2 separate regions of the Homo sapiens genome follow, and region 1 is linked to region 2. The links come from fine-mapping of genetic effects on gene expression. A gene starts in region 2. The other region holds a variant in brackets. All regions are shown on one strand. Distances are between the middles of the regions.

The links. PIP is the estimated chance that this variant, and not a neighbour inherited with it, causes the effect. A credible set is the group of variants that fine-mapping cannot tell apart.
Region 1: its variant is the best candidate, but not a certain one, in a credible set for the expression of NPNT in subcutaneous fat (TwinsUK, PIP 0.52).

The regions. Positions count from the first base shown.
Region 1 is chr4:105,988,039-105,992,428 of GRCh38, forward strand. No RefSeq gene overlaps it. Among named protein-coding and RNA genes, the nearest start is that of NPNT, 95 kb to the left of the region's middle. The variant C/T (reference allele first, on the strand shown) is at 1,763.
Region 2 is chr4:105,893,248-105,897,637 of GRCh38, forward strand. It overlaps NPNT (nephronectin), which reads left to right and starts at 2,224. Exons shown (of 12, transcript NM_001033047.3): 1 at 2,224-2,476. The coding sequence starts at 2,406. RefSeq lists silencers at 933-982, 1,907-2,476, 2,637-2,846, 3,085-3,379.

The DNA of each region.
Region 1 (4,390 bases), 95 kb after region 2:
CCTCCCAAAGTGCTCAGCTTCTAATACCCACAATTCTACTCTCACTGTTCATGGCCTCAAATTTGTTTTTTAGCTCCCACATATGAGTGAGAACATGTGATATTTATCTTTCTGTCCCTGGGTTATTTCTGAGCCTCAGTTTTTAAGAAGTCTGTTCTTTATTTTAAGAAATGAGAAAGATGTAACTACTGTTTCTACATTTGCATTATGGCTAATTTTTAAAGGTATCTTTTTGGTCTAATAAGAAGTATGTGGGAAATGGACTTTTTCCAATATCACTTGATAGCTTGATGAGAACATATTGTAGAGACTCTATTGTTCTGGCCTTTAAGGAATAGAGAGTTCTGTATCTCCAAGGTATGCTTTTCTCCAAGCCCATGAAGGCCTTCTAAATGCCCAACGTTGCTACAGTCTATGTGGTGAATAGGTACTTGTTTGAGTTTGACATGGGCATTATTCTAACTGTAATTTTAGATATTTACACCATCATCTACTCATTTGATTCCTTCATGGATTTCCTTATAGATAGCCTCTGAGACCAGTGACTGAATACCCTATATTTGAAATCCACTATAGGAGATTGCTTACATTAGTTTTCTATTGCTACCTAACAATATTTCCACAAACAGCAGTTTAAAATAACACACATTTATTATCTCATGGTTTCTGTGAGTTAAGAGTCTGGGTGGGCATGGTGTCAGTAGATTCTCTGCTTCAGCATCTTCCAAGGCTGTAATCAAGGTATCAGCCAGGGCTGTGGCCTCATCCAAGACTCAACTGTGGAAGGATCCACATGCAAGTTCAGGCAGTTGTTGGCATAATTCAATTCCTTGCATCTGACTCATTTTCTTGCTGGCCGGAGGCTGCCCTCAACTCCTTGAAGTCTCCCACAGTTCCTTGCCACATCGGATTCCCCAACAGGACCACTTGTTTCCTCAGTGCCAGTAAAGAAAAGACCCCAGCAAGATGGGTTCTAAAATCATACATGGCATATGCATATAGTCATGTACATGTCATACAATGGTCCATTTAAATACATCTGATTTGTATATAAAAAAGTATCTTCTGTTCTGCCCTAAAATATTCTTAAATATGATCTGTGTTTGAAGTATCCGAATGGGAGTCAACAACTTAGAATCCTTCCTCTAACTCCTCTAAAATCATGAGAAACTTTCTCTGTATATGACGCATTTTCACAGGGCTATGAGAATCCTGGGAGGAATACTTTGCAAGATACTGTTTCCACTTTGATGTGCTCGCTTTTACCCTATATCCAAAAGCAAATGTCCCTCTATTCATATTTTTATGATATCACTGAGGAACTGGCTGCCGTAAATTTTCTCCTTAAATGAGTCACACTCCTATGCAAAGAATACCAAGTTATTTTTATTAAAATGTTAAGTCTCAAGGTATTTTTAAAAATAGCATTAATGGGGGGTTTGGTCAAGTGTGCACTGGTATTCTTAACAAGTCTGTATCTTGTCAAGTTGGTTCCAACTTGATTAATCCAAGAAGATTAGCCAGCTGTCCTAAACAAGTTCTTTTTTGCTCCAAAGTTTGTGTGGCCTTGTTAGGACACCCCTGGAAAGGCCTTTTAAGACTCACTGTTAAATACTGGCTTGATTCCCACCCTCCTGTTCTGCTATAGAAAACCTGTGATTTCCTCGGGCATGAAGGAAATCCTCCCATTAGAGGGAGTGGTTGGCAACTCCTGATATGAGGTCACTGGCTATTTTGTCCCAAGTGTAAGATTTCCCTTTGA[C/T]CTGGCAATGCCACCTCTAAACTCCCAGCATTTTCAAAGGAGATGAAAAATGCCTTATTGAAAACTGGATTAATGTAGTTATTTGGTTAATTTAAAACCTGAACAAATCAAATAATGAAGATGCGATCTTAGTTTATATCCAATGAAACCCTTAACTGTTCCAATAAACAAGTATTAGTCATTTAAAAAAATTCTAGTCTCAACAAACCTCATAAAATGTATATTTCTGAGTGAGTAGTTGTGACTTAAGAATGCCAGCCATTCCCCTCTTTTACTCCTTCTATAACCTAAGTGTGTTTTGGTCAGAGTGCATAATGTTTAGTCATTTAAAAAAATGTCAACAAGATAATGGATACTTCAGTCTCTAACTTACCTTTCAATATATTTCCTATTTCTAATGTTTCCTTCTAACCTTACACCCCTGTTCCCTGCCTATTTTCTCTTCCTTGCCATTCTCATTTGCCCCTAGTCTTCCCATTGGTTGCTTGTTCTTACAACTCTTACATGTGTATAGAGATGAGAGTTCAGAATGGGGAAGGGTGGTGAGTGCTGTTTCCCCTTTCCCTGGATTCCCACCAGCTCATGATTTTCAGAACTTCTACCTTCCCTGAAGGATCAGGGAAGTTGCTGCATTCTCTCTCCTCTCTTGGGTGAGATGTCCAGGTATCAGGTCACACTCTTGGTCTATGAGTCCCAACTGAGTGAGGCTAATTGAGCCTTCCTTCTGGCTCTCTCAGCCCTATGCAGTCTCATGGTTTCCTCCATCTTGTAAACCCTCAGAAAAGACTTTGCCCCTGGAAGGGGGAGGGTGGTGAAGTTCTGTAATCATCCAGCTATTCTGGCTAAGAACGTCTCTTGGGTCAAGGGTGGGCTGGGAGCAAGCTTATTGAACAGGATGCCCCAGGGCCAAAGGAAATGATATGATGCCTTTACCCATCTTGGGTAAAGGTCCAGGCCTTTGCAATCTTGCTTTAGCAGTGATACAACTGGCATTTTGGTCTCTGACTGTGTCTTTTTCAGTTTATTCCTTATCCAGAGGAGAGATGGGTGCTATGAATTAATGTCCTTAAATGCTAATAACGAGCATCGAGCTGGCTCTCCTCTCCCTTTTCCCTCACAGGGAAGAAAACCTGAGGGAAGCAAGTGGGGGTTTTGTGGGCAGCAGAGCTTGTGAGCAACTTCATGGGGCCTGATCAGGAAGGCAGACAAAGAGCCGGATGTCCTGTGAAATGAGGGCACTTGGGATGTGGGCCACCAGGCCAAGTTTAGTTCTTCCTGCTTTCAGCCAAGCACAGGAGCTAGGCCAAAGCTCTGGTGGAGACTCTGGGCAGGACGCCAGGCCTGTGAAACCTGCTAAAACAGGCCTGGTGAGTATCCAGGGCACAGCATGAGAGAATCAAAAGGTGGACATCCCCAGTGAGTCAGGCTGACAGAAAAGGACAGCTGGTCATGATCCCTGAGGGAGCCAGAGCTGACTCAGCTTCAGTGCTGTGGTCTCCAGTGTATTTGAGGTAGGAGCAAAACCGTGTCCCTAACTTGTCATATACTCGAAATTAAGAGTCATGACTTTGACCAACTCAGACTTCAGTAAGGTGACCACTTTCTATATTGGAACTCAAAGATTCCATTAAAAAGACGGAAAAGGAACCTAGATGTCCAGTGGCCTGATGTAGAGAACTGATTATCTACACAGAATCTAAAACATCCTGCTCCACCCAAAGTGCGCATCAAAAAGAACTCCCCTCCAACCTCCTGTTAGCATTTGCCTCGGTTTTAGCTCAGCAAAGGTAATATTCTTGTGCAAGCAGAGAAGGAAAGGTGAGTCTATATCCTTTTGGTGACATTTCCTTTTGGTGATGGGAGCAAGCTTATTGAACAGAATGCCCCACACCCAAAGGAAATGATATATGTGTCTCACGACTTCTGTGAGGCCACTATAAGCTCCCAGAGCATCAGTAGAATAACTGGGCCCTGTTGCCATGACAGTGTCATCTCGAGCAGCGGCCGCACTCCTGCAGAACCTACAGTTTGAACTCTGTCTCTCTGGTCCAGTCCGTTCTTCTGTAGAACTGTGTTTGCCTCGGGGTGTATCGGGTAGAGTGAGGGAGAAGCAGCTGCAGGGGCTGACACTGCCCCTACTGGCACTGACTCTGCCTGATGGTACCTCATCCCCATCCTTCTTCATGTCCTCCTGGCTCATGGGCCCAAGAGGCCTCTCGTTATCTACTTTATCACAGGCTTTTCCCCACAACCCATTAACGGTCAGCTCTGCCAATTGCCAACTGTAACCTTGGGCAAATTAGTCAGCCTCTCTGACTCTGTTTCTTTTTCCTAAATAAGAAATGCAATACTTCCTCTCAGGGTTTATGTGCAGATCCATTTGAGGAGTGTAACATTTGTATAGCACTTAACATAGCACCTAGCCACAAGAGGCATTCAATAAATAGGAAGCCATTTTTCTTATTAGCAGTATTATTAAGATTAATAATAAATGGAATTATATTTGTAATAACAATAGTAATGTACCATTAATAATAGTAATAACTATTATTATTACTTGTGGCTCATTTAGGTTGGCTAATGTTCATATATTTGTAATACACACATATGTGTATGTATTCCAACACA
Region 2 (4,390 bases):
ACTGTCGGCTAAATTTAAACTCAAAGGGTAAGGGGAGATTGTCCAAATGAAGAAGGAAGAGGAATGAAGAGGAGGCTAAATTTAAATGAAGAAGGAGTGTTTTCTAGGCCAAAGCAAATATATGGAAAACAAAAGAAAGACGCATGTAGATGGGGCATTACACTTTTCCCTCCAGTTATTTATCCTGTTTTCATCCACCACTCTTCGTCTTTTCCTTAGATCTCCAGTTTTTTAGCCGTATATTACCCCCTTTCTCTCTAATCATCCATTGCACACAGTGAGGTTTATTTGTAAATCTAACCCAGGCACCAACTAACCAACCAACAAACAAAAACAGCTAAGGAGTAGCCACTGGAACCTGGAACCATGCCTACACTTACAAAAATTTGATTTTCTGCAGAAAAAATATTTTGACTCCTACATTTTTGGACTTCATTAGAAGGACCTGAAATGGATGACACCAAGCTGTTTGCCTAAAATAATGTCCCAAGCCTGAATTGGCATGGATCTTTCTTGAGATTAAAATAGAAACTTGTTTTGCTAACTGAAAACAACTTAGAAATCAAAGAGCCATTTAAGTTGAAACCATTATTTTTCCTTTCCTTGAAGAAAATTCCTGTTTTTACACACACTGAATGATCAGGATAGTGAATCACCCTACCACAGAACTTTCCATTAAAAATTTGAAGTTGTAGAAACCTCAAAAAGAAAATGAAGATGGGGGGAAAACGTTTGTAATGTAGCAAATGAATTGAATAAACATTTATGAGCACCTACTATGTGCCAGGCAGTGTTCTAGGTGATAAAGATACCTGCCTTTGTACAGCTTGCATTCTAGCGGAAAGAAAACATACAAACAAAAAATATGCAAGTTATATAGTAATATAAAAGATGAGTGGTATGGAGAAAAGACAAAGTAGGACAGGCCAAGGATCATCAGAAGGAGGGCAAGTTAGAGGTTTAAATAGGATGGTCATGACTGGCCTCTTCAAAGAGGTGTGACATTTGAGCAAAGACTGAAGGAAGTGAGGGCGTGTGCCATGTAGATATTTGCAGAGGGCAAGTTGCAGTTTTAAATAGGATGATCATGATTGGCCTCCTGGAAGAGGTGACATTTGAGCAAAGACTGAAGGAAGTGAGGGTGTGAGCCATGTAGATATTTGGGTCCAGATAGAGAAAACAGCCAGTTACTGGCCCCAAGGCAGGGGCATGCCTGGAACATGCAAGAAAGGCAAGGAGGCCATGGACTGGAGGAAGAGAAATGAGGACATTGAGAGGTACGGGAGATGACAGATGATCACTGCACAAGGCTGTCATTCGAGGTAAGGTTGGGAAGAGGGGTGACTTGATTGGGCTCATGTACATCTTAGGATAATCATGTTTTCATTTGAACACAGTCATTTAGTACAATACTTTTTACTCTGCAACAACTGAACAATGATTACTTAAAATGGTTTCTAAGTGATCCCCTCAAGATCAGGCACCACAACACTACTAGGCAGTAGCAGCCCTTCCTCTCTGGCAGGCACTCATCCCTAGAGGGGCAGTCCTGTCCTAATGTGCTCGGGAGTTGAGCTGATAGAGACAGAAACAGTCTGCTCATTTCTTCTTCAAAACCCGACTGGAGAGCCAAATATTTCTTTTGGTTAGTTACAAAATAAAAAATATGCCTTTGCCAACTCTGCGGGAAAAGCAAACTCCCAGAGTTTGCCTTCGCTAATTTGTCCAAGTCGTGCTGTGGTTTTAGTAAATGCAGACACTGCTCAGCTCCAGCCCCATAAACCTCTCTGCTCTAGGGCTTCTCCGCCCTCCGGTGAAAGCTACTGCTCGCCCCTGCAGTCACCACCTGTTCGGGCGGAACCTGCGGAGCGTGCACCTACGCCTCGGGCTCCTTTCCTCCTCCACTCCCCTTTCCTGCTGGGCACCCTGCTTTCCCTCTCCCAGAGAGGGTTTGCAACTTTTCTCCCAGGCTGGGGCTCGCCCTGCTTGGCTAACCCCCAAGAGCCACTGCCGTCCCGCAGCGCCCCTGCCCCCGAGTTGCCTGCCCCGCTGGGCCCCCGGGAGGAGCGGAGCGCGCTCACCCTTCGCCCGGGGCTGGGAGGGCGGCGAGTCGGGCGCACGCGCACCCCCTGCCCGCCCCTGGCGCCCCTCCCCGCGGGCGGTGCAGCTACCCCTGCAGCGCCTCCCCTAGCTAGAAGGGAGCGGGAGGGGGCTCCGGGCGCCGCGCAGCAGACCTGCTCCGGCCGCGCGCCTCGCCGCTGTCCTCCGGGAGCGGCAGCAGTAGCCCGGGCGGCGAGGGCTGGGGGTTCCTCGAGACTCTCAGAGGGGCGCCTCCCATCGGCGCCCACCACCCCAACCTGTTCCTCGCGCGCCACTGCGCTGCGCCCCAGGACCCGCTGCCCAACATGGATTTTCTCCTGGCGCTGGTGCTGGTATCCTCGCTCTACCTGCAGGCGGCCGCCGAGTTCGACGGGAGGTGAGCTGGGCCCCGGGGCGCCCTCTCCTCCTTCCCGCGCTAATTTCACACTCACTGTCTTGGGTCACTTTTCCCCGCGGGGTTTCGTGGTCAGAGAGGCGTCTCCTCCATCCAGAAGTTGGGCCACCGCACAGCGTGGCGCGAGGAGAGCGGTCCAGCGGCTCCGAGTGCCCGCCCGAGGCGGAGAGGGCGCGCCCTTGCGAGTCTGGGACCCCATCCGCGGCCCCCCGAGGGCGACTCGCCCCGGCTCGGGAATTAGGACTGAGGGAGAGGAGCCGCTGGAGCCTGGGATCTCGGCTCTGAGGGCGCGGTTTAGCCACCTACGCCGAGGTGACGCGCGAAACATCCCTTACCCGGGAAACTCCCGCGCCTGAACTAGACGGCTCTTCACTGGGGAAGCTTCCAGGCCCCCGGGGGGAGGCCCGGGCTCTGCTCAGGGCTCTCGGGGCCGCTCACACAGAGAGTGGGTGCGAGTCAGCGACTGGGCTACGGGGGAGATTTGTGGGCCTCTCCATTTGGTTTTCTTGAGGGAAGGAGACTCAAAATGAGGACCGGAGGGTGGGCGCTCCGTGAATGTGAGCATGAGTGTGTGGATGTGTGTGTGAGAGCGCACACACTGCGCCGCTCCTCAGACTCGGGCGAGCCTGACGGCGGCGTGCTGTGACAGGTTCCAACAACCTCGGGCCGCGTCTCCGCTGTCACTCAGCCGGTCCTCCCGCGCTCCGGGGCCGCTCCGGTGTGTGAGAGACACTGGGTCTGTCGGGAGGGTGTGCTCGGTCCCCCTCACCTCTGTGCAATTACAGACTAGGCTCGTCCCGGGTGCAGATGGCTGCTGCGAAAAGAGGTTTTACTCTGGCGCACACCGTCGCCCGGTCGCCTTCCTTCAGCGACCTCTGCCCCCACCCCTCCGTGTAGGTCCCTGCCTAGTCCTAAAGAAAGATGCCGCACCTGTTTTACCTTTAATCTTGGAACGAATCAATTCCACAATTGATTCGCTTTCTTGTACCCGGAGGCGAACGGAGGGGAACCAGTGGAGCGCCAAGAAAAAGCACAGCTGCTTGTTCACTACCTGGTCGGAGGAAATAGAAAGTTCGGGGTTATTTTGTACTTTGGGCCTGGGGGTAGAAAGGCAGGTAAAAGAAAAGGGGAATTGAAAAAGATAAGGAGACTTTAAGAAAACGTGATAGCAGCCAGAGTGTAGACCTTTTTATTTTATTTTTAAAAGCAATTCTGTGCTCACATTTGGGTATGTTATGCATTTCTTGCACACATATTTGCAACAAGAAACCCATCACAAGATATGCATATGATGTGAATGCATATAGCTTTTTGTAACTTTAAAAAGATGTCTAAAACAGCAAATTAAAATGTTGATACCCAGAGGAAAAAAGTCATTTAGGTGTGACTCTAAACAAGGAAACAATTTAGCAAATAATGTGTCAACGTGTAATCAGGTGGATAAATCTGTATCCTGAAATTACTTTCTTTAGGCATTATTTACATTAGAGAGGAAAATACTATGAATTGTTGATCTAAGCACGTTTCAAACCACAAGGATACTTGAGATATCAGCTACACTTTAAACTCTCCTTGGTTTTATTTAGACTTTTTTCTAGTACTTTTTTGTTTTTTTTGTTTCTGCCACAGTTATGTCTCAAAAAGAGCTCTGTTACACTTGATTTTTGAGAAACCTTTCTGCTCCTTCCCCCATCCACCTTTTATATGAGGCAGAAATTTTTTCTGCTTTGACATGTCTTACTTAATACTTTTCAGTTTATGGTGAATCAGTCAAACCTGGCTTTCACCCCAGTAACAGGTGTGGGTCTTTGAGGAATCTGTTTTATTTCAAGCTTCAGAAACTATCCTGTGAGTGGCAGCCTTGAGAATTGTTGGTGTTAGCTGGTGCTATTTCTA